Linked DNA regions of Homo sapiens: regions 2, 3, 4, 5 and 6 are each linked to region 1. Evidence: fine-mapped expression QTL. A gene starts in region 1. Each other region holds a variant in brackets. All regions are shown on one strand. Distances are from middle to middle. Region 1 holds the start of KCTD7 (potassium channel tetramerization domain containing 7). Region 2 overlaps LINC03006 (long intergenic non-protein coding RNA 3006). Region 3 holds the start of LINC03129 (long intergenic non-protein coding RNA 3129). Region 4 has its middle 3.9 kb from the start of GUSB. Region 5 overlaps GUSB (glucuronidase beta). Region 6 overlaps TPST1 (tyrosylprotein sulfotransferase 1).

Region 1 (4,087 bases):
GATTTGTTTTAGCTGCCACAGATAAGAACATGCAATATTTATGTCTTTCTGTGCCTGGCTTATTTCACTTAACATAATGACGTCCATCCACGTTGCTGCAGATGACGTGATTTCATTCCTTTTCATCTGTGTTTAAACAAGGTCTCCCTCCAGGGATTTTGATGCAACTGAAGTTGGAGAAAACACAGACCTAGGACACTCCTGCAGCTGGGAGTGCGATGGTCTAACAGAGGAAGTGCTATGCCACCAGCTCATCTTTGCCATCCTGGAGCTGTCTAATCTACGACTCAGTTTTCTTTTCTGTCACTACACTGTGAGAATGAGATGAGGAACTGGGTGTGAAAACGGTTTGAAAAGGAGAAGCATGGTTGCACACGCCTGCGATCCCAGCACTTTGGGAGGCTGACGAGGGAGGACAGCTTGAGGCAAGGAGTTTGAGACCAGCCTGGGCAACATGACAAGACCCCATTTCTTAAAAAAAAAAAAAAAAAAAAATTTTTTTTTCTTTTTTGAGACGGAGTTTCGCTCTTGTTGCCCAGGTTGGAGTATAGTGGCCGTGATCTCGCCTCACTGCAATCTCCATCTCCTGGGTTCAAGCGATTCTCCTGCCTCAGCCTCCCTAGTAGCTGGGATTGCAGGTGTGCCACCATGCCTGGCTAATTTTGTATTTTTAGTAGAGATGAGGTTTCACCATGTTGGCCAGGCTGGTCTCAACTTCCTGACCTCAGGTGATCCACCCGCATCGCTTACCAAAGAGCCAGGATTACAGGCGTGAGCCACTGCGCCCGGCCAAAATTTTAAAAAATCAGCTGAGTGTGGTGGTGCGCGTCTGTGGTCCCAGCTACTCGGGAGGCTGGGGCGGGAGGATTGCTTGAGCCCAGGGGTTGCAATGAGCTATGATTGCGCCACTGCACTTCAGCCTGGGTAACAGAGTGAGACTTTGTCTTTTAAAGAAAGGAGAAAATGGCTTGAACGGGCTAAGAACCTTGACCCCCAGGAGACTCCCTGCGCTGATAGAGCCTCTAGGGCTGGACTCCGCCTCCCAGGGAGCCGGGAGCATCTTGGGGAAGGGCCTGTCTCCATCTGTGTGTCCCGGTGGAAAAACGGTCACGGTGGGGAGTCACTGTCATTATTCATTGAACTCAAGCGCTCCTATTTTGGGTTTTCTCGTTCGGATTTCTGCGCGAGCGAGTGAGGAAGAACTGGACACCCGGGCGGTGCCCTGCGGCTCGGGGCGGGGCCAGCCGCGGTGGCGTGTCCGCAGCCACCTCAGCCCTCCTCCCGCCACATCCTCCAGGAAAGGCTGCTCAGGCCTTCCATTGAGGAGACAAGGACCCGCTGCTCTGGGGCCAGACACACGAGTAAGTCGTGACCCCCTGTGTGAAGGGATAAGGCGTCTACCCTGACGCGGGTGAGAACCCTCTTCACGGCAGACTCCGACGCCCAGTTATGAGAGCGTAGCGGCGCACCACCGCCGGGTCTCTCGGAGAGGGCGCGCCCGCTGGCCAGAGGACCAATCAGTGCACGGCAGGCTCGCAGGCCGCCCCCCCCCCCCCCCCCCAACCCAGGGACCACTCAGGCGCCGGCCGCTGGCGCTGCCTGCTCTTCGACTGGGCGAGCTTCCTGCCAATCAGGGCGGAACCAGCGCGGCGTCGGCCAGTAGCGGGAGGCGGTCGGGTCAGGCCCCAGCTGGGCGCGAGCGGGTCGGCGTTGAGGGAGCCACCGCCCTCCCGCCTGCGCACTGCCTCTCGCCCCCCTCCGGCCAGCCCGCAGCCGGCCGCGTCATGCCAGGCGCTGCTCGGCGGTAGGGAGTGCCCGGGGCCGCCGCCTCCGCCCGCCCGAAGCCGCGCCCACTGCCCAGAGCCAGAGGGATGGTGGTAGTCACGGGGCGGGAGCCAGACAGCCGTCGTCAGGACGGTGCCATGTCCAGCTCTGACGCCGAAGACGACTTTCTGGAGCCGGCCACGCCGACGGCCACGCAGGCGGGGCACGCGCTGCCCCTGCTGCCACAGGAGGTACCCGGGCGGGCGGCGGGCCGCGGGGCGTGGGGAGGGGCGCGGGGGAGAAGCGGGCGCGGGGCATAGCGGTCCTCGGCGGGTGGGCGGGGCCGGGGTTGGGGGCGGGGCCCGCGGACTTGCGCCCCTCCCCCGCCCACCTGCAACTCCCCCGCCCACCTGCACCCCTACCCACCCACCTTCAACCCCTGTCAATTACACCCACTAGGTGTGCTTCCCCACCCCCTACACCCTCCGCCCAGTAGTCACTGGGGTGATTTACTCCCATCGCCATGTCCCACTTTTACCGAAGACAGGAGGGAGGGTGGGCCGTGGGAGGGGGACCCTGGAGCCCCGAGAGCTGATGGTGTGTCTGACCAGGCACCGTAGCTCGAGCCTGTAATCCCAACACATTGGGAGGGAGGATCGCTTGAGGGCAGGAGTTGGAGGCCAGCCTGGGCAACATAGCGAGGCCCCGTCCCTACTACGACTGGAAAAACAAAGGCATTTTGGGTTGGATGAATAAAAAAAAGAAAAGAAAAAGATGTCTTCTAGAGAATCCAACAGGATGCTGTAGTGGTTGCCCACACCTAGTCTCCAGCTACCTAAGGAACAAGGCAAGGAGCTGTCTGCACATAAGGGGCAGGCCAGTTCATAGATGTAGGCACGGTCACCTGGCATCCCATGGCTTTCACTCACAGGCTGCTGTGCTCTGGTGCACAGGGGCTTCCACGGGTCTTACTTAATGTGTGTGATACTATCATGTCAACACCTGAAATGACACTCAAGAGACGGGAGAAGATACCAGGCATGGTGGCTCACATCTGTAATCTCAGCAGTTTGGGATGCTGAGGTGGGAGGATTGCTTGATCCCAGCAGTTAGAGACTAGTCAGGGCAACAGTGAGACCCTGCCTCTACAAAAATGAAAATTAGCCAGGCTTGGTGGTGTGTGCCTGTAGTCCCAGGTGCTCAGGAAGGTGAGTTGGGAGGATTGCTTGAGCCCTGGAGGTTGAGGCTGCAGTGAGCTGTAATTGTGCCACTGTACTCCAGCCTGGGTGTGATAGAGTAAGACCGTACCTACAAACAAACAAAAACAAAAAAAGCAAGAGAAGGGAAACGATGCCAGGTGTGGTGGCTTACACTTGTAATCCCAGCACTTTGGGAGGTCAAGGCAGGAGGATGGTTTGAGGCCAGGAGTCTGGGACCAGCTTGGGCAACACAGACTCCATCTCTACAAATAAAAAATAAAGAGGAGGGAAGGTGAAGCATTACTGGACACCGAAGATGGCTTCTAGGAGGCAGGGACTAAGGTAGTGCCAGATCCAGGAGCATGTGGTATGCGGAGTCCCAGGACAATGGAGGCCCTCAACAATTGAGGCCCTCAACAGGCTGGGCTAGGTGATGCTCTTGGGAAGCAGATAGTGTTGTGCTGGGATTGCAAGCCCCATACACACAATGCCATGGGAAAATGAGCAAAAATCTAGAAGTAATCTCTGCAATTGGAAAAAAGTCATTAGTCACAGTGGTGCTATTTTTTTGTGCACTGTCATTGGGAAAATGATATGGTTTGAGGGAAAGAGCACAAGACCACAGATTGCAGACCAGGGCCCCACCACCAGTTCCCCCCACTGATGACATTGCCCCATGTGAGCTCCAAAACTGTTTCCGATGGCTTTTGTCCTCTCTGCTTCAATCCTCTCATCTCTAATATGGAGCAAGCACTTGGATTGGTATGAAGTATCTTTAGAAAAGGTTTAAAGAGCTCCAGAAATGTTAAGTATTATTATTCCAAAATGATATCTGAGCCCTTGATATACACATAAAATGGTTTTAGAGGACCTACAGAATAAGCGCAAGGCATTTTCATGTCCTGTGGGTGCAGAAGAGTAACAGTGCATACACACACGGAAGTGTAACTACCTGTCTATTTCTTTCATTCATTCGGTGAATTTTGGGTCTTTATTTGAGCCAGGCGCTGCACAAGGCCCTGGGTCAGCTTTATTTAATGTATTTGTACCCTATTTTATTTCACAAAGGATTTGAAAGCTGGGAAAGGTACTGTGTAGATAAGCAGACTTTCACTGGAGCAGGA
Region 2 (4,087 bases), 940 kb before region 1:
CCTTCCAGGTGGAATTTGCCTTTTTTTTTTTTCCTGCTATGTCAAGATCCTACCCTGCCTAGAAAAACTCACTTCTTTATTCAACAAGCACTGTCTATGTATTAGAAATATAGGGATATCAAAACAGACAGGATCCCTGCTGTCATAAAACTTATATTCTAAAGAGAGGTGGAGTAAACAAACAAAATGATTTCAGATGGTGATAAATGTTTTGCAGAAGATAAACAGTATGATGGAGGAATGGGGAATTTCTCTGTAATTTGAGTGGTTAGTAAAGACTTTCTGAGGAGATGATGTTCAAGTTGAGTCTTGAATGGTAAACAGAAGCTAGCTATGTGAAGACCGGGAGAATAAATTCAGGTAGAGGCAACAGCTAGTGGGAAGGCTCTAAAACACAAGTGAGCTTTGTTGTGTTTGCAGAATAGAGAGAAAGCCAGTAGGAGTGAACCACAGTGAGAAAGTAGAAATGTGGCATGAAATGAAGTCTGAGAGGGGATTAGGGAGAGGTGGAGAGCCTTGTAGGCCATTTTAAGATGTCTGGATTTTATTCTAACATTATGGAAAACTGTTGCAGAATTTTATGGATAGGAGTGACATTTCGATTTGCCTCTCTTTTAACATTTCTCATTCTTGAAATCTTGAAATTCACTTCAGATAGATCGACTCTTTCCCTCACTCCTCCATTTAGCACATACAGGTATACCTCTCTTTATTGGGCTTTGCAGATATTGTATTTTTTTAATAAATTGAGAGATTGCGGCAACCATGCATTGAGCAAGTCTATCAGTGCCATTTTTCCAATAGCATGTGCTCACTTTATGTCTGTGTCACATTTTGGTAATTCTTGCAATATTTCAAACTTTTTCATTATTACATCTGTTACAGTGATCTGTGATCAGTGATCTTTGATGTTACTGTTGTAATTGCTTTGGGATGCCACAAACTGTGCCTGTATAAGATGGCAAACTTAGTAAGTGTGTGTGTTCTGAGTGTTCTGCTAACTGGCCATTCCCAGCCTCTCTCTTAGCCTTTCTTCTTAGCCTGTCCTTTTTCCTAGTTGCAAAAAGGCTCTTGTACCTTCAGCATCATGATTGAGTCCCAGATAGGATGGAAAAGGAAGGTTAAAGAAGAAAGGGGATAAAGCTACTGCCTCTGGTCCTTTATCAATAAAATGAAAGATATTTCAGGAATTTCATCCAAAAAACTTCCACATACTTTGTTACATGGCCACCCTAGATGGGAAGGTGGCTGGGGAGAAGGGGATGGTAGATAGAGGCTGAGTCTGCTAACCAACAGTAACTACTATTATTATTACTTTTTTTTAAAAGGATTCAGCCAGAGATATTCGAGAGGCTCTTCATGAACTCTTATGCTGTACTAATGTTTCAACCAAAGAAGGGATTCATCTTGCATTGGTGGAGCTGCTGAAAAATTTAACCAAGTACCCTACTGATAGGGACTCCATATGGAAGTAATGACTTTTTTGCCCATTTACTCACTGAGTCGCATAATGTGGTAAATGTACAATGCTGACATTTGTTCCGTCCTTATAGATTGAGGGTGGTACGGCCCTGAATTTTGCCTTTACTTTAGAAACCTGATTGAACTTAACCGCTCTCAGGAATCTGATTCCTAAGCTGAATATCACATTTTAGATTACTTACTAATTTGTGCATCTATCCACCTAGCAAATATTATGTGCCTGCTGTGTGCTGACTACGCACCAACCCTTGTGGTAGCTGTTACAAGTATAGAAATAAATTAATTAGATTTCCTCTTTCTCCTATATAGTGTTTTGTTTTGTTACTTTTTTTTTTTGAGATGGAGTCTCGCTCTGTCACCCTGACTAGAATGCAGTGGCGTGATCTCAGCTCACTGCAACTTCTGCCTCCTGGGTTCAAGCGATTCTCCTGCCTCAGCCTCTCGAGTAACTGGGATTATAGGTGCACGCCACCATACCCAACTAATTTTTGTTTTTTTTTTTAGTAGAGATGGGGTTTTACCATGTTGGTTAGGCTGGTCTTGAACTCCTGACCTCAGGTGATCCACCTGCCCTGGCCTCCCAAAGTGCTGGGATTACAGGCATGAGCCACTGTGCCCGGCCTTATTATTTTTTATTCATTAAGTTCTGGTTTAGAAGGTGCACTTAATTGGCTGGGTGCAGTGGCTCACGCCTATAATCCC[G/A]GCACTTTGGGAGGCTGGGGCGGGTGGATCACCTGAGGTCAGGAGTTCAAGACCAGCCTGGCCAACATGGTGAAACCTCATCTCTACTAAAAATGCAAAAATCTGCTGGGCGTAGTGGCACATGCCTGTAATCCCAGCTACTCGGGAGGCAAAGGCAGGAGAATCGCTTGAACCCTGGAAGCAGAGGTTGCAGTGAGCCGAGATTGTGCCACTGCATGCCAGCCTGGGCAACAGAGCAAGACTCAGTCTCAAAAAAAAAAAAAAAAAACCATAAACAATAATAAAAATGTATAATTACCTTGCTTGTATAGTTCCTTATAGTTTATAAAGGGCCCTCAGGTAGTTATAATAGCTAACATTGAGTTCTTACTATGTGACAGACACTTTGCTGAGTACTTTATGTTAGTTATTTAATGCATATAGCAACTCTATGAAGTAATGACTTTTAATCTCATTTTGTAGATGAAAAAATTTACTTGCATAAGGCTACTTAGTTTCAGACAGATCTGTGATTTCAGGACTTCACCCAGGATATCAATTAGAATGTTTTTGCCCACAAATAAAAAAGACAATCTGATTAAAAATATCTTAGCCAATAAGTCTGTTTTTTCATAACGAGGTCAGAAGGTTGGTTTCAGGATTGGTCATTCAACAGGTTACCAGGGCTCTCTTTGGTTTCTCTGCAGTTCTCTTGGCTCTTTTTTTTTTTTTTTTTTTTTTGAGACAGAGTCTCTCTTTATCGCCAGGGTGGAGTGCATTGGCATAATATCGGCTCACTGAACCTCCGCCTCCCAGGTTCAAGCGATTCTCCTGCCTCAGCCTCCCGAGTAGCTGGGACTACAGGCCCGTGCCGCCATGCCCAGCTAATTTTTGTATTTTTAGCAGAGATGGGGTTTCACCATGTTGGCCAGGATGGTCTTGATCTCTTGACCTCCTGATCCAGCCATCTTGGCCTCACAAAGTGTTGGGATTATAGGCGTGAGGCACCGCACCCGGCCGGCTTTCTTCTCATGGTTGTAAGATGGCTGCCTCATAAGATAATATCTCAAGACAGAAAGGAAGGGTCATTCCCTTTCATGCATTGCTCTTTTGATTTGCAAAAACATCCCTGAGAAGCTCCCCAGCCAGCATACTCTCGTGCTCCATTGTCTAGAACTGGCTTACTTGCGTACCAGCAAACCAGTCACTGGAAAATGGGAATGGGGTTGCCATGATGGGTTTAGACCAATAGTGGTTCAGCTCTTGGGCTGGACCTGCCTTTTCCGAGCACTTTGCTGCCTGCCTGATACCTGAGTAAAATCAGGGCTCTCTCAGGAAGAAAGATGGGGGAAATGGCTGTTGGTTAAATAAACAGTTCTTTTATCTTTATAATAACCAGTTTTTTTAGATGAATTAACCAAGTTCCAGAATAACTGGGTGACTTATCTGAAGTCATAGAGTTAGCAAAAGTATATGGTTGAGAATTTCCAATTCCAGTTCAGGTTTTCTGATTCCAGTTCCTAGTACTTTTCAAAGGACTAACTTTACTAATTTGTTGATGTGCATTCTTATTTGTTTGTTTCAGGTGCTTGAAGTTTCTGGGAAGTCGGCATCCAACCCTGGTGCTTCCCTTGGTGCCAGAGCTTCTGAGCACCCACCCATTTTTTGACACAGCTGAACCAGACATGGATGATCCAGCTTGTATCCTCTGTGCTTAGGATGGGCCCTGATGTGTTGGCAGGCAGCTTTGGCATCTCCTTCTGCAGTGTAGCTAGGGTGGTCTGAGTTTTCTTTTCTTTGCTTTTCTTTCCTTTTTTTTTTTTTGAAGACAGAGTCTCATTCTGTCACCCAGGCTGGAGTGCAGTGGCTTGATCTCGGCTCACTGAAACCTCTGCCTCCCGGGTTCAAGCAATTCTCCTGCCTC
Region 3 (4,087 bases), 790 kb before region 1:
TATATGTTTTTACAATTATGCTGTATGACACATATTGTTCCATAGCCTTGAAAATGATAATTTTTAATGAAAATTATTTTTAATTGAGAGGAATAATAATAAAAGTAGCAGCTGGCCAGGTGTGGTGGCTCACACCAGTAATCACAACACTTTCGGAGGCTGAGGTAGGAGGATGGCTTGAGGCCAAGAGTTTGAGACAGGCCTCGGAAACCAAAGGAGACACCATCCCTACAGAAAAGTACATGAATTATCCTAGTGTGGTGACATGTTCCTGTAGTCCCAGCTACTTGGGAGGCTGCTGTGGGAAGATCACTTGAGTCCAAGGAGGTTGAGACTGCAGTGAGTCGTGATCAGGCCTCTGCACTCCAGCCTGGGTGACAGAGTGAGACCCTGTCTCAAAGCAACAAAAAAGTAGCAGCTAACATTAACTGACCTTTTACCAGGTGCCTATAAATACCATAGTATAATTTCTTATAACTGTTTCTTACTTAACTTAACCACTCTGTTTTCAATTACTCCCAGAATTTCACTGTGTTTATGCAGATGACCTTTTGTTTAGATTGAATTGTCTCCCCAAGGTATTTCCAGAAGTAAGATTACTGTGAGTCATGGTGAATGGGCATTCTCATTGCCCTTGATGTACATTGACAAGGTTTTGGGTGCCTCCTGGCTATAATCCCAGCCCTTTGGAGGCTAAGACAGGAGGATTGCTTGAGGCCAAGAGTTGGAGGAGGCAGTAAGGTGAGACCCTGTCTCTATTATTTTAAAAAATTGCCAACCTTTACCTTGGAAGACTATGTACAATTTAAACACCCCTCCTAGTATAAGAAAGTGTCCATTTCACTGCACCTTTGCCTGCACAGGGTATTATAATTTAATAAGTTATTTTTTGTTTGATTATTTTAAATAGATAAAATACCGCATATTACTTGGTCACATTTCAGCATCTTCCCTTAGCTTATTAGCTCTATTTCTTTTCTGTCTGTAAATGGTTGTTGTTGTTGTCGTTTTGTTGTTTTGTTTGAGACGGGGTCTTGCTGTGTCACCCAGGCTTGACTGTAGTGGCATAATCATGACTCACTGTAGCCTTGACCTCCCAGGCTCAAACTATTCTCTTACTTCAGCTTCCTGAGTAGCTGGGACTACAAGTGTGCACCACCACTCCCAGCTAATTTTTTTCTTTTTTTGGATAGAGACAGGGTCTCACTGTGTTGTCCAGGCCAATCTCTAGCTCCCGGCCTCAATCAGTCCTCCTGTGTTGGCTTCTTAAATTGCTGGAATTTCAGGCATGAGCCACCATGCCTGGCCTGGGCTAGTCCTATATTCTCTGGAGTTCTCTTTACTTTGTGCTAGCCAGTCTCTCATTATGCTGTTCCCCTGTTACAATGAATAATTCTCTGTATTAAATTTACCACTTTAAACTTTTGAGTGGTTTATGTCTCCTGGTTGGACTCTAATATGCTAAGAAGGGTCCCTGGAGATAGACTCACACAGATGGGATTTGGGGATAGGTTTGGTTATCCAAGGGGCAGTGCTGAGCTCCTTGCCAATGGGAAACGGAATGCTGGTGATTTCCAGGAAGTGACCTCACAATGACTCAAGCTACTGCTTACTGTTGATTGTGATGAAATGCCAGCTGAGGCACATGCCTTGGGAGCTAAGTGGTTGCTGCACTTGACCGCTATGAAGACTGGTGTGGGAATGGTCCTTTTGGATGCACTTCAGCAGGGGTCCCCAACCCCTGAGCCATGGAGCTGTAAGGAGCCACACAGCAGGAGGTGAGTGGTGTTGAGTGAGGGAAGCTGCATCTGTATTTACAGCCACTCCCCATTGCTCACATTCCCGCCTGAGCTCCGCCTTCTCTCAGATCAGCAGCAGCATTAGATTCTCATAGGAGCATGCATCCTATGCAAACCGTGCATGCGAGAGATCTGGGTTGTGCTGTCCCTATGAGAATCTAATACCTGATTATCTGTCACTTTCTTCCATCAA[T/C]TCAGATGGGACCATCTTGTTGCAGGAAAATAAGCTTAACATGTCCACTGATTCTACATTATGGTGAGTTCTATAATTATTTCATTATATACTACAATGTAATAATGGAAATAAAGTGCCTAATAAATGTAATGCGCTTGAATCTTTTGGCTCAGCTCCTGCCTCCCGGCAGCCTCTCCAGGTCCAGAACTTTCTCCAGTCGGCCTCTACGGGCCAAGCTTGTGGCTCACAATGGCCTATTTAGGCCCATACCCTACCTCATGGCAGTCTCCACAGATGAGGCTGCTGCCTCATGGCAGCCCCCACAGGCCCAGCTCCATCATTACAATGGCCTCTTTAGGCCCAACTCCTGCCTCCCAGCCTTCTCTCCAGGCCCAGAGAGAAGGTTCTCAAGTCAACCTCACCAGGCCCAGCTACTGCCTCTCATCAGCCTCCCAAGGGCCATCTTTTGCCTCACAGCCACCTTCCAAGACTCAGCTCCTGTTTTACAGTGGACTCTTGAGGCCCACCTTTTGCCTCCCAGTGGCCTGTACAGGCCCAGCTCCTGCCATACAACAGTCTCTTTAGTCCGAGCTCCTGCCTCTGGGCAGCCTATACAGGCCCAAAATGTCCATAAGTCAGCCTCTCAAGGCCAAGCTCCTGCCTTCTTCCGTTGGCCTCTCCAGACCCAGCTGCTGCCTCCAGGTGGCCTCTAAAGGCTGAGGTTTCTCCTGGCTGTGCCTGGAGGCCCAGCTCCTGCCTCACAACAACCTCTTTTGGTTCAGCTCCTGCCCAGCTCCTGGTGGCCTTTGTAGGCCCAAAACTGCCTCAAGTCAAGCTCTCCAGACCCACCTTCTGCCTCCCAATGGCCTGGACAGGCCCAGCTCCTGTGTGACAACAGCATCTCCAGGCCCAGCTCTTGCCTCCCAGCTGACTCTCCAGGCCCAGCTTTTGCCTCACGGAGGTCTTCCCTGAACAAGTTTCTACCTGCCTCCCGGCAGCCTCGACAGGCCCAGGTCCTGCCTCACACTAACCTCATTACGCCCAGCTCATGCCTCACGGCAGCCTCTCCAGGCCCAGCTCCTGCCTCCGACGGGCTGTCCAGGCCCAAAACTTCCTCAAGTCGCCTCTTCAGGCACAGCTCCTGCCTAACACTGGCCTCTTTAGGCACAGCTCATGCCTCTCAGTGGCCTCTCCAGGCCCAGCTCCCGCATCCCGGTGGCTTCTCCAGACTGAGAACTTTCTCAAGTCTGCCATTTCAGCCCAAACTCCTGCCTCCCATTGGCCTCTACAGGCCCAACCTCTGCCTCACAGCAGACTTTCCAGGCCCAGTATCTGCCTCACCACAGCCTCCCAGGCAAAGCTCCTGCCTTTCGGCAGCCTCTACAGGCCTAGCTCCTGCCTCCCAGTGGCCTCTCTAGGCCAAGCTCCTGCCTCATGGTGGCCATTCCGGCCCAGCTTTTGCCTTTTTGCAACCTCTTTAGTCACAGAACTTCCACAAGTGAGCCTCTCCAGGCCCAGTTCTTCCTCCTAGCTGAATCTCCAGGCCCACCTCCTGCCTCACAACAATCTCTTTTGGCTCAGCTCCTGCCCAGCTCCTGGAGGCCTTTGTAGGCCCAAAACTTCCTCACGTCAAGCTCACCAGCACAATCTTCTGCCTCTTGGTAGCCTGGATAGGCCCAGCTCCTGCATGACAATGGCCTTTCCAGGCCCAGCTCTTGCTTCACGGAGGTCATCCCTGGCCAAGTTCCTGCCTACCTCCCAGCAGCCTTGACAGGCCCAGCTCCTGCCTCACACTGGCATCATTAGGCCCAGTTCATGCCTCACGGTGGCCTCTCCAGGCCCAGTTCCTGCCCCTGACAGACTCTCTAGGCCAAAATCTTCCTCAAGTCGGCCTCTCCAGGCCGATCTCTTGTCACACTGGTCTCTTTAGGCCCAGCTCATGCCTCTTGGCAGCCTCTTCAGGCCCAGCTTTTGTGTCCTGGCAGCCTCTCCAGGCCCAGCTCCTGCCTTCTGTCAGCCTCTACGGGCCCAATATCTGCCTCACAGCAGATTCTCCAGGCCCAGCATCTGCCTCACCGTGGCCCCCCACAAGCCAAGCGCCTGCCTTTCAGCA
Region 4 (4,087 bases), 640 kb before region 1:
AGGTGCGGTGGCTCACGCCTGTCATCCCAGCACTTTGGGAGGCTGAAGCAGGCAGATCACCTGAGGTTGGGAGTTCGAGACCAGCCTGACCAATATGGAGAAACCGCATCTCCATATTTAGCTGGGCATGGTGGCACATGTCTGTAATCCCAGCTACTCGGGAAGGCTGAGGTGAGAGAATCGCCTGAACCAGAGATTGCAGTGAGCCGAGATCACGCCATTGTACTCCAGCCTGGGCAACAAGAGTGAAACTCCTACAAAAAAAAAGAAAAAGGAAAACAAGTGCCCAGCTTGACCTCTTGACTCAGGGTTTCATAGATTGGCATCCTTCCAGGATCTTGCCACTCCTGATTCCTTAGCTGGGGCTCTGAACATACATTCTTAGACCATAAAGTCATTCGCAGGGTGCACAACAGTTACGGATGTCAGGTGCCTCTGCCATACAGAGGGAGCCCTCATGTCCTAGGAAGCTGGCCTGGACACAATTGTTTGTATGATTACTCCCCCACCCCCTTTTTTCATGCTCACCAAATCCACCTTCTGAAAATGGACCTCAATACTGGAAATGGAGTCCCCAGCATAGTGAAAATAAGTACATTCTGGGAACTGACAAGGCCTAAAGGCTCTCTCCCAAATGTTTACATTGTTTTTTTATTTTCATATTTTCTTTTTTTAAATTTTACTTTTATATTTCATTAGTGAAATCTTGACATGCTTAAATTAGAATACAGTTCACTGTTTATGAGGCAGCTTTAGGCCAAATTTAACAAAAGTAAGAAAAAGTAGGATGCAGACGTTTATACAGTATGTAAAAATCAGTAATTCAGGCCAGGGGCAGTGGCTCACGCCTATAATCCCAGCACTTTGGGAGGCTGAGGCGGGCAGATCACCTGAGGTCAGGAGTTCAAGACCAGTCTGGCCAACAAGGTAAAACACCATCTCTACTAAAAATACAAAATTTAGCCAGGCATGGTGGCAGGTGCCTGTAATCCCAGCTACTAGAGAAGTTGAAGCAGGAGAATCACTTGAACCCGGGAGGTGGAGGTCACAGTGAGCCAAGATCACACCACTGCACTCCAGCCTGGGGGAACAGAGCAAGACTCTGTCTCAAAAAATTAAAAAAAGAAAAGAAAAGAAAAAAGAGTGAGAATCACTAATTGCCACGAGAATGGCACCATGCCATTCATGAGGGACCTGCCCCTATGACCTAAACACCTCCCACAAGGCCCCACTTCCAACATTGAGAATCAAATTTCTTTTTCTTTTTCTTTTTCTTTTTTTTTTTTTGAGACAGAGTTTCGCTCTTGTTGCCCCAACTGGAGTGCAATGGTGCCATCTTGGCTCATCACAACCTTCGCGTCCCAGTTTCAAGCAATTCTCCTGCCTCAGCCTCCCGAGTAGCTGGGATTACAGGCATGCATGCCCGGCTAATTTTGTATTTTTAGTAGAAATGGGGTTTGTTCATGTTGAGGCTGGTCTCAAACTCCTGACCTCAGGTGATTCGCCTGCCTTGGCCTCCCAAAGTGCTGGGATTACAGGCGTGAGCCACTGGGCCCAGTGGGGAATCAAATTTCAACACAACACTTGGTGGGGCCAAACAAACCATAACCAAACCACAGGATAGGTACTATTATTACTACCATTTCTCAAATGTGGAAACTGAGACACATGAAGGTTCAGTAACTTTTCTAACACCACAGAGCTAGTAAGATGCAGAACTGGGAATCTGACCTAATCAATCTGTTTCCAAGTGTTTATGCTGTCACTCTGAATCACTCTGCCATACCACCTGGCAAAGGCTTTTTTTTCTTGAGAAAGTGTCTTGCACCCAGGCTGCATCACAGTTTACTGTAGCCTCGACCACCTGGGCTCAGGTGATCCTCCTGCCTTAGCCTCCCAAGTAGCTGGGACTACAGACACATGCCATCACACCCAGCTAATTTTTAAAAAAATTTTTATTTATGTATTTTTTTTTTGAGACGGAGTCTCACTCTGTCGCCCAGGCTGGAGTACATTGGAACAATCTCAGCTCACTGCAACCTCCGCCTCCCAGGTTCAAGCGATTCTCCTTCCTCAGCTTCCTGAATAGCTGGAATTACAGGTGCATCACCATGCCTGGCTAATTTTTGTATTTTTAGTAGAGACGGGGTTTCACTATGTTGGCCAGGCTGGTCTTGAACTCCTGACCTCAGGTGATCTGCCTGCCTCGGCCTCCCAAAGTGCTGGGATTACAGGTGTAAGCCTTCATGCCTGACCCTATGTCCAGCTAATTTTTACAACATTTTGTTGGCCAGGTGTGGTGGCTCACACCTGTAATCCTACCACTTTGGGAGGCCAAGGCAGGTGGAT[C/T]ACCTAAGGTCAGGAGTTCAAGACCAGCCTGGCCAACATGGCAAAAGCCCATCTCCACTAAAAATACAAAAATTAGCCGAGTGTGGTGGTGCACACCTGTAATCCCAGCTAATGGGGAGGCTGAGGAAGGAGAATTGCTTGAACCTGGGAGCTGGAGGTTGCAGTGAGCTGAGATCACAGCACTGCACTCCGGCCTGCGAGAAGGGAGCAAGACTCCATCTCAAAAAAAAAACAAAACATTTTTTAGTCTGGGCATGGTGGCTCATGCCTGTAATCCCAGCATTTTGGGAGGCTGAGGCAGGTGGATCACCTGAGGTTGGGAGTTTGAGACCAGCCTGACCAACATGGAGAAACCCTCATTTCTACTGAAAATGCAAAATTAGCCAGACATGGTGGTGCATGCCTGTAAACCCAGCTACTCGGGAGGCTGAGGCCGGAGAACCACTTGAACCAAGGAGGCGGAAGTTGGAGTGAGCCAAGATCTCACCATTGCACTCCAGCCTGGGCAACAAGAATGAAAGTCTGTCTCAAAAAAAAAAAAAGTTTGTATTCAGGGTTTCACTATGTTGCCTAGGCTGGCCTTGAACTGCTGGCCTCAAGCAATCCTCCCAGCTCAGGCTCCCAAAGTGTTGAGATTACAGGCATGTTACCCAGGATAATCTCGATCTCCTGACCTCATGATCCGCCTGCCTTGGCCTCCCAAAGTGCTGAGATTACAGGAGTGAGCCACCATGCCTGGCCTGATCTGTTTCTTTTTCAGAGACACAGATACTATCCAACATTTTTCTTTTTTCTTTCTTTCTTTCTTTCTTTCTTTCTTTTTTTTTTTTTTTTTTTTTTTTTTTTTGAGACAGAGTCTCACGCTGTTGCCCAGGCTGGAGTGCAGTGGTACAATCTCAGCTCACTGCAACCTCCACCTCCCAGGTTCAAGCAATTCTCCTGCCGCAGCCTAATAAGAAGCTGGGATTACAGGTGCTCACCACCACAACTGGATAATTTTTGTATTTTCAGTAGAGACGGGGTTTCACCATGTTGGCCAGGCTGGTCTCAAACTCCTGACCTCAGGTGATCCTCCAGCCTTGGCCTCCCAAAGTGCTGAGGTTACAGGCATGAGCTGCCATACCTGGCCAGCCATTCAACATTTTTCTGATATCTTTGTTTTAGCTGTTGTGTTTTGCTGAATTAAAGCATCTGAATTTGGTAAGCATTTGTAAATCAAAGAAAATTACTGAAGCGTGTCTCAGTCATTTTTAGAGGTCATTTTGTGAAAGTTGAGGATGCAGTGGGAGGAAAAAAGAAATAAAAACCACAGGAAATATTTGTGATGCATGCTTTTTTTTTCCAAAGACGGTCTGGGGACTTCAATATTTAAAGGGAAAAAGAGGCCGGGCTGGGTGGCTCATGCCTGTAATTCCAGCACTTTGGGAGGCCTAGGCAGGCGGATCACCTGAGGTCAGGAGTTTGATATCAGCCTTGCCAACATGGTGAAACCCCGTCTCTACCAAAAATACAAAAATTAGCTGGGTGTGGTGGCACATGCCTGTAATCCCAGCTACTCGGGAGGCTGAGGCAGGAGAATTGCTTTAACCCAGGAGGCAGAGGTTGCAGTGAGCCGAGATCACACCACTGCACTGCAGCTTGGGCAACAGAGCAAGACTCGGTCTTAAATAAATAAATAAATAAAGGGAAAGAAAGTGAGTAGTAGGGGAAGGCAAAATAAAAAAACAAGTGGGGAGGG
Region 5 (4,087 bases), 660 kb before region 1:
CCCTGTCTCAAAACAAACAAACAAAAACAAAGGGGAAAAAAAAAAAAGCATGGAGCCGCTGCTTTCTTCCCTAACTTGAGATGTATTTTACATAAGGGCATATGATCCTCTAGTCCTAGACCGAGCTCTCTAACATCACTCCTTCTACCCCCATCTCCGAATCCTATACCCCCAGAGGAGCAGCCACTCTTCCAGGTACACAGAGCTGAGGTCACTAGGCTGGACACTGGCAAAAATGAGGTTGACGCCCTGAAACAGCTCTTGAACACAGGAGGTGGATGGATGCAGATTTGGGAGGGATATTTATTAATGCATCAAGCAAACGGAGTGCAGGCTGGGAGGCAGGCATGGGGCTAGGTGCGAGGTGCTCAGCAGTGACTCAAATCTAAGTCCACAGGTCCTGGGCAGTGGGAGTGGAGACGCATGCAGAGAAATGGTGCAAGTGCCGGGCAAGGCGGCTCACGCCTAGAATCCCAGCACTTTGGGAGTTTTACCAGAGACCAGGAGTTCAAGACCAGCCTGGGCAACATAGCAAGACCTTGTTTCTACAACAAATTTAAAAATTAGGGGCGGGCATGGTGGCTCACGCCTGTAATCCCAACACTTTGGGAGGCCGAGGCGGGTGGATCATGAGGTCAAGAGTTTGAGACCAGCCTGGTCAACATGGTAAAAGTCTATCTCTACAAAAAAATACAAAAAAAACCTAGCTGGGCATGGTGGCATGCGCCTGGAATCCCAGCTACTCATGAGGCTGAGGCAGAAGAATTGCCTGAACCCAGGAGGTAGAGGTTGTAGTGAGCCAAAATTGCACCAGTGCTCTCCAGCCTGGGCAACAAGCAAGACTCCATCTTGCGGAAAAAAAAAAAAAAATTTAAACTTAGCCTGACATGGCCGCACACACCTGTGGCCCCAGCTATTTGGGAGGCTGAGGCAGGCAGATAACCTGAGGTTGGGAGTTCGAGACCAGCCTGACCAACACGGAGAAACCCCATATCTACTAAAAATACAAATTAGCTGGGCGTGGTGGCGCATGCCTGTAATCCCAGCTACTCGGGAGGCTGAGGCGGGAGAATCACTTGAACCCAGGAGGCAGAGGTTGTGGTGAGCCGAGATTGTGCCATTGCACTCCAGCCTGGGCAACAAGTGCAAAACTCCATCTCAAAAAATAAATAAATAAATAAGAAGAAATGGCCCTTAGAAGGGAAGAAAAACCCAACAGAGGGACCCGTCTGTGCTCAGAGCTCCTGGCACCTGCCCGAGGCCTCCACAGTACAGACTGTTTTTGTTTTTGTTTTTTTGAGAGACAGAATCTCACTCTGTAGCCCAGGCTGGAGTGCAATGACATGATCTTGGCTCACTGCAACCTCCACCTCCTGGGCTCAAGCAATTCTCCTGCCTCAGCCTCCCAAGTAGCTGGGATTACAGACGCCCACCTCTGTGTTCCGCTAATTGTTTTATTTTTAGTAGAGACAGGGTTTCAATATCTGTTGGCCACGCCGGTCTCAAACTCCTGACCTCAGGTGATCCACCCACCTTGGCCTCCCAAAGTGCTGGGATTACAGGCGTGAGCCACCGCACCCAGCCTAGACTGTTGTTGAAGCCTGTTTTCCTCTTCTCTTTCCTCAGTTCATTTCTTCTTTTAC[G/A]CCCTCCCCCATCATTGCTCTGCCTATCCGAAGGCTGTGGCTGGCACAGATCAGAAAAGAACCCCCTAGCCTCAAGTTCCAAACCCACACTCTCCAACAGCCAGGCTCTCAGATGGGAAACTTCAAAGCCTGTGACAGCCTGGCTGAACCTCTCCAGCCTGGGTGGCTCCCTCCAAATCCTGCCCCAGAAAACAGGCATCTCCTCTGGCCACCTCCCAAAGAAGCCTCAAACACCTGCTCCTGGAAGCCTGTACTCTTCCCCTTCGCAACAAAGGGCCTGTCCACCCAGTCCTGCTGAGCACACCCCTGTGCCCCCAAGCTCTGAATTGTCCTTGGCCCAGGCTGCAACAACTTCTCAGAGCCTTCTGCCTGCTGCAGACTTGGCTCAGCCCAAAGCACTGCATGAAATTGGGGTGTGCTGTATGAGTCAAGAGGCATTTCTACCACCTCTCCTGCTTCTACCCCAAGTGAAAAATCCAACTCTGAACGCTGAGTTAGAACTGCACGATTGTAAGGAAGAAAAGGGGGCCAGGTGTGGTGGTTCACACCTGTAATCCCAGCACTTTGGGAAGGTGAGGCAGGAGGATCACTAGAGGCCAGGAGTTCCACGCCAGCCTGGCAAACATGGTGAAACCCAGTCTCTAATTAGCCGGGCACGGTGGCTCACGCCTGTAATCCCAGCACTCTGGGAGGCCGAGGTAAGTGGATCTCCTGAGGTCAGTAGTCCAAGACCAGCCTGGCCCAACATAGTGAAACCCCGTCTCTACTGAAAAATGCAAAAGTTGGCCAGGCGTGGTAGCTCACGCCTGTAATCCGAGCACTTCAGGAGGCCGAGGCAGGCGGATCATGAGTTCAAGAGATCGAGACCATCCTAGCCAAAATGGTGAAACCCCGTCTCTGCTAAAAATACAAAAATTAGCAGGGTATGTTGGCGTGTGCCTGTAATCCCAACTCCTCAGGAGGCTGAGGCAGGAGAATCACTTGAACCTGGAAGGTGAAGGTTGCAGTGAGACGAGATTGCGCCACTGCACTCCAGCCTGGCCACGGAGTGAGACTCCATCTCATAAAAAGGAAAAAAGGAAAACTTAGCTGGGCGTGGTGGCATGTGCCTGTAATCCCAGCTACTCGGGAGGCTGAGGCTGGAGAATCACTTGAACCTGAGCGGCAGAGGTTGCAGTGAGCTGAGATCATGCCCCTGCACTCCATCCTGGGCAATAGAGGGAGACTGCATATCCAAAAAATAAAAAATAAAGCAAAAATTAGCTGGGCGTGATGACACACATCTAGAATCCCAGCTACTTGGGAGGCTGAGACAGGAGGATCACCTGAGCCTGGGAAGTCAAGGCTGCAGTAAGCCAAAACTGCACCGCTGCACTCCAACCTGGGCAACCAGAGTGAGAACCCATTTTGAAAAAAAAAAACAGCCCCAGCACAGTGGTTCATGGGTGCCTGTAATCCTAGCTACTCAGGAGACTGAGGCAGGAGAATCACTTGAACCCAGGAGGCAGAGGTTGTAATGAGCGGAGATCACCCCACTGCACTCCAGCCTGGGCCATATAGTGAGACTCCATCTCAAAAAGAAAAAAAAAGAACAAAAAAGAAAACCACAATTTGGGTGGGTAGATATTTGGTCCCCTGAACTATCTGGGTATGGACGGCCTTCCCATTGGGCTGGACACGAGGCCGATCTTGAACAGCACATGCCCACCGAGGCCAGCCACCTGCCAGGGTCTCCTTCCCACTCTAGCCGAGGGCAGGGAGGGAGCACTCACTTCAAGTAGTAGCCAGCAGATTCTAGGTGGGACGCAGGCTCGTTGGCCACAGACCACATCACGACCGCGGGGTGGTTCTTGTCCCTACGCACCACTTCTTCCATCACCTGCATGTGGTGATGCAGAGAAACGTTGTTGAAGAACTGCCTGCGGGCCAGGAGGGAAGGGACAGAGGGTCACGGTGACGCCCCCGGGCTGGGCAGGCGGAGCAGGTGCACAGCAGAGACTCACGGCAGCGCCAGGCCCACGCCGGGACACTCATCGATGACCACAATCCCATAGCGGTCACACATCTGCATCACTTCCTCTGCATAGGGGTAGTGGCTGGTACGGAAAGCGTTGGCACCAAGCCAGCGAAGCAGGTTGAAGTCCTTCACCAGCAGCGGCCAGTCGAAGCCCTTCCCTCGGATCTAGGAGATAGCAGAGCCAAGTGACCCCTGTCCCTGTCGAAGCTGCACTTCCTCTGAGAGCCAGGACCCTGGAGAGCCACCCCATGAGCCCCCTCTCCATTTGGAGCCATTTGCCTCATTGCCCTGAGCTGCCCTCAACTGCAGGACACAGGGAAGGCGAAAGTGGAGGGTGACCAGAAGCAGCCCCGACAAGGACCCAGGAGCCCCAACACACGTCCGCATCCTCATGCTTGTTGACACCGTGGAAATAGAAAGGTTTCCC
Region 6 (4,087 bases), 300 kb before region 1:
TGGTGGACCACAGGAGCCCAGGGGGATTTCAAACTCCAGATTCCTTTTTGTGTAATCATATCTGGCTGGAGTTATTTGTTTTCTCTGCATGTGAAACTATCAAGTCATAATTCTTCAAAGGGGAATGTTTATTGCATTATTTAAAAATAATAAATTATATTACTAAATAAATAACAGCAGGCCAGGCATAAACCAATGATGAAAGTTTGTCAGAAACTAAGGCTTCTGATTAATTCTGTGCTCTGGACTATAATTGGAAGGAAGGATTATATTAGAGTTTACAATGAGTTTACAGAAAGAAAGGAGAGGGATAAATTATATTTAGTTCACAGTAAATCTGAATTCAGAACCCCTGGTTGTAAGACTAGTCTTTTAACCTTTAGAGTTAAAAAATGTATATGTACAGCTGGGTGCAGTGGTTCACGCCTGTAATCCTAGCACTTTGGGAGGCCAAGGTGGGTGGATCGCTTGAACCCAGGAGTTTGAGACCAGGATGGGCAAAATGGCAAAACCCTGACTCTATAAAAAATACAAAAATTAGCTAGGTGTGGTGGCAGGTGCCCATAGTCCTAGCTACTCAGGAGGCTGAGGTGGGAGGATCCCTTGAGTCTGGGAGGTCAAAGCTGCAGTGAGCCGTGATTGTGCTACTGTACTCCAGCCTGGGTGACAGAGAAAGACCCTGTCTTAAAAAAAAAAAAAAGTGCGTGTGTGTGTGTGTATGTACGTTGAAGAAAACTATGAGAAAAAGCAAAAATGTAGAGTCCATAATGCATAATGTTGTGTTAAGCACATAGTTTAGTCATTGGTACATATTTCTGGAGATGGTCTAAAGATCTATTTTTTAAAAACTGATTTTAGTTAAATCAGAGGTTAGCAAATCACAGCCTGCAGGCCAAATCTGGCCTATCATACATTTTGTTTGTCTCTTTGTTGTGTTTTTGGTGTTTTTTTTTCTTTCTTTTTTTTTTCCTTTCCTTTTTTTTTTTTTTTTTTTTTTTTTTTTGAGACAGAGTCTTGCTCTGTTACCCAGACCAGGCTGGAGTGCATTGGTGCGATCTCAGCTCACTGCAACCTCTGTCTCCCAGGTTCAAGCAATTCTCCTGCCTCAGCCTCCTGAGTAGCTGGGATTATAGGTGTGCACCACCATGCCCAGCTAATTTTTGTATTTTTAGTAGAGATGGGGTTTTACCATGTTGCCCAGGCTGGTCTCAAACTCCTGAGCTCAGGCAATCTTCTCGCCCCAGCCTCCCAAAGTGCTGGGATTACAGACGTGAGCCACCGCGCCTGGCCCTATCATACATTTTGGTAAATAAAGTTTTATTAGAACATACTATGCTCAATCATTTATATGTTTTGTGTGGCTGCATTTGCCCTGCAGCAGTAGAGCTGAGTAGTTGGAACAGAGACTGTGGTTCATACAACCTAAAATATTTACCCTGGCCTTTGTTACAGAATAGGTTGCTAACCTCTGAGTTTCTCAGTTTTAGCCCATTCACAAATGAAATAGTTTTTTTTTGTTGTTTTTTTTGAGACAGCCTCACTCTGTCGCCCAGGCTGGAGTGCAGTGGCATGATCTTGGCTCACTGCAACCTCTGCCTCTTGGGTTCAAGCAATTCTCTTGCCTAAACCTCCTGAGAAGTTGGGACTATAGGCACATGCCACAACGCCTGGCTAATTTTTGTATTTTTAGTAGAGACCAGGTTTCGCCATGTTGACCAGGCTGGTCTTGAACTCCTGGCATCAAGTGATCTGCCTGTCTTGGCCTCCCAAAGTGCTGGGATCCCAGCCTCTCTCTCTCTCTTTCTCACTCTCTCTCTCTCCCGCTCTCTCTCTCTCTCTCTCTCTCTCTCTATATATATATATATATATATTTTTTTTTTTTTTTTTTTTTTTGAGACAGGGTCTCATTCTGTCACCCAGGCTGGAGTGCAGTGGCATAATCACAGCTCACTGCAGCCTCAACCCCACGGGCTCAAGCAATTCTCCTGCCTCAGCCTCCCAAGTAGCTGGGATTACAGGTGCGCACAACCACGCCCAGCTAATACTTGTATTTTTTTGTAGAGACGAGGCTTCTCC[A/G]TGTTGTCCAGGCTGTTCTCGAGCTCCTGGAACTCAAGCAATCTGCCTCAGGCAGGAATCCTGAAATTCTGGGATTATAGGTGTGAGCCACTTCTCCTGGCCCACAAATGACATATTCCTTATAATCTACTACAGTGAGCTTTGCATGGTTAATATATTTGTTGTGTTGAAACTATCTTCCTGATTTTTTCCAATTTTTTATAGAGAAACCTGGAAAGAATAGTACCATAAATACCTATATACCCTAACAGAGAATTATTGTTAAAATTTTGCCATATTTGCTTTATCTTCTCTGTGCATATGTATACTCACATGGCTTTTTTTTTATTGGTATTAGTTGAAAGTTGCAGATATTATGCTTCCTCAGCGCATATCCCTAAGAATAAAAGCATTTTCCTCGACAACTGATTATGTTAAAATTTGAAGACGTGTATGAGGTTTTTGTTTGTGAGGGCTATATGACTGGCGTTTCTCCAGTATATGACACTTTGTTCATCCCTATGTTCCTCTTTATAAACTGCAGAAATTCTAAATATAATGCATTAGTTGTCTATTGCTTGCAAGTAGTAGACTGAATGATGGCTCCATAAAGATGTCCACTTCCATTAGATAAAGAAAATGTGTACATATACACCATGAAATATTGCACAGCCATAACAAAGAGCGAAATCATGTTCTTTGCAGCAGTTTGGATGGCGCTTGAGGCCATTATCCTAAGTGAATTAATGCAGAAACAGAAAACCAAGTACCTCATGTTCTCACTTGTAAGTGAGAGGTAAACACTGGGTACAAATGGACATAAAGATGGGGACAGTAGACACTGGGAATACAAGAGGGCAGAAGAGGGAAGGAAAAATAAGGGTTGAAAAACTACCTATTGGGTACTGTGCTCACTACCTGGGTGACAGGTTCAATCATATCCCAAACTTCAGCATCACACACTATACCCCTGTAACAAACCTGCACATGTACCCCCTGAATCTAAATAAAAGTTGGAAAAACAAATCAACCCAGATGGCCATTTCCTAATCCCTGGGGTCTGTGAATATGTTACCTTATCTGGCAAAAGGAACTTTACAGATGGAATTAAGGAATTTTAGATGAGGAGATTACCGATCATCTGGTGGGCCTAAAGTAATCACCAGGGTCCTCATAAAGGAGAGGCAAGGGAGTTGAAGGTAGAGAAGGGGCTCTGAAGATGGGAAGCAGAATAAGTGTAGGAAATGTGAGCTTGCCACACTGCTAGTGTTGAAGATGGTGAGGCTAAGAATTTTCACATCCACTTTCAAAACCATTGTGTCCTGGCTCCTTTTAAACCATCTTTCCCTCAATTTCTCTGTCCTCTTACATCTTATTGTAAACACCAAGAAGAAACCTGGCAGTTAACTTTGCTTGGAAATCTTTTTAGCTAGACCATCTAATTCATTCGGCACATTTTCTACCTTCCACATCACTGTAAAATTGGGTTGCTAAACTTTCCACAACTACCTAACAGAGATCCCTTGCCTCCAGTTTCTACTCAGATGTTCCTCACATTCCTTAAAACTCACAGTCCACCTCCTAACAATCTAAAATCTACCAACTATCAATTCCTGGCAATTTAGGCTTTACTGCTCCTCTCCTGAAAGGCCTTAAAGTATTAGAACTGGGCCCTATTATTAGAACCTATTTCCCAGTTCTAATATTCCTCCCACATTTTTGGTATGTGTGACAATGGAACTTTACTCCTGATACCAAAATCTGTATGATTTATATATGAAGCATAACAAATTATTCTAAAACGTATTAATGGCTTAAATCAACAAACGTGTTGTCTCATAGGTTCTGTGGTTCAGGAATCCAGGCAAAGCTACCTAGATGCTTCTAGCTCAGGATCTTTCATGAAGTTGCAGTCAAGCTGTCAGCTGGGCTGCAGTCATCCAAGGCTCAGCTGGGAGAGGATCTGCCTTCAAGCTCTCTCATGTGACTGTTGGCAGGCCTCAGGTTTTCACTGGCTGTTGGCTGGAGATGC

The links. PIP is the estimated chance that this variant, and not a neighbour inherited with it, causes the effect. A credible set is the group of variants that fine-mapping cannot tell apart.
Region 2: its variant is the best candidate, but not a certain one, in a credible set for the expression of KCTD7 in whole blood (INTERVAL, PIP 0.51).
Region 3: its variant is the best candidate, but not a certain one, in a credible set for the expression of KCTD7 in whole blood (TOPMed, PIP 0.57).
Region 4: its variant is the best candidate, but not a certain one, in a credible set for the expression of KCTD7 in blood mononuclear cells (TOPMed, PIP 0.56).
Region 5: its variant is the best candidate, but not a certain one, in a credible set for the expression of KCTD7 in whole blood (TOPMed, PIP 0.81).
Region 6: its variant is the best candidate, but not a certain one, in a credible set for the expression of KCTD7 in whole blood (TOPMed, PIP 0.52).

What each region holds. Positions count from the first base shown.
Region 1 is chr7:66,627,194-66,631,280 of GRCh38, forward strand. KCTD7 (potassium channel tetramerization domain containing 7) reads left to right here and starts at 1,688. Exons shown (of 4, transcript NM_153033.5): 1 at 1,688-2,015. The coding sequence starts at 1,872. RefSeq lists silencers at 269-468, 1,479-2,048.
Region 2 is chr7:65,687,980-65,692,066 of GRCh38, forward strand. All of the region lies in intron 3 of LINC03006 (long intergenic non-protein coding RNA 3006), which reads right to left. It also overlaps the pseudogene INTS4P2. Among named protein-coding and RNA genes, the nearest start is that of SNORA22, 66 kb to the right of the region's middle. The variant G/A (reference allele first, on the strand shown) is at 2,185.
Region 3 is chr7:65,836,036-65,840,122 of GRCh38, forward strand. It overlaps LINC03129 (long intergenic non-protein coding RNA 3129), which reads left to right and starts at 3,669. Exons shown (of 1, transcript XR_002956508.2): 1 at 3,669-4,087. RefSeq lists an enhancer at 3,007-3,518. The variant T/C (reference allele first, on the strand shown) is at 1,993.
Region 4 is chr7:65,984,085-65,988,171 of GRCh38, forward strand. No RefSeq gene overlaps it. Among named protein-coding and RNA genes, the nearest start is that of GUSB, 3.9 kb to the left of the region's middle. The variant C/T (reference allele first, on the strand shown) is at 2,350.
Region 5 is chr7:65,970,880-65,974,966 of GRCh38, forward strand. It overlaps GUSB (glucuronidase beta), which reads right to left. Exons shown (of 12, transcript NM_000181.4): 6 at 4,040-4,087; 7 at 3,647-3,825; 8 at 3,416-3,562. Among named protein-coding and RNA genes, the nearest start is that of GUSB, 9.3 kb to the right of the region's middle. RefSeq lists an enhancer at 3,112-3,822. The variant G/A (reference allele first, on the strand shown) is at 1,644.
Region 6 is chr7:66,327,037-66,331,123 of GRCh38, forward strand. All of the region lies in intron 3 of TPST1 (tyrosylprotein sulfotransferase 1), which reads left to right. Among named protein-coding and RNA genes, the nearest start is that of LINC00174, 71 kb to the right of the region's middle. The variant A/G (reference allele first, on the strand shown) is at 2,077.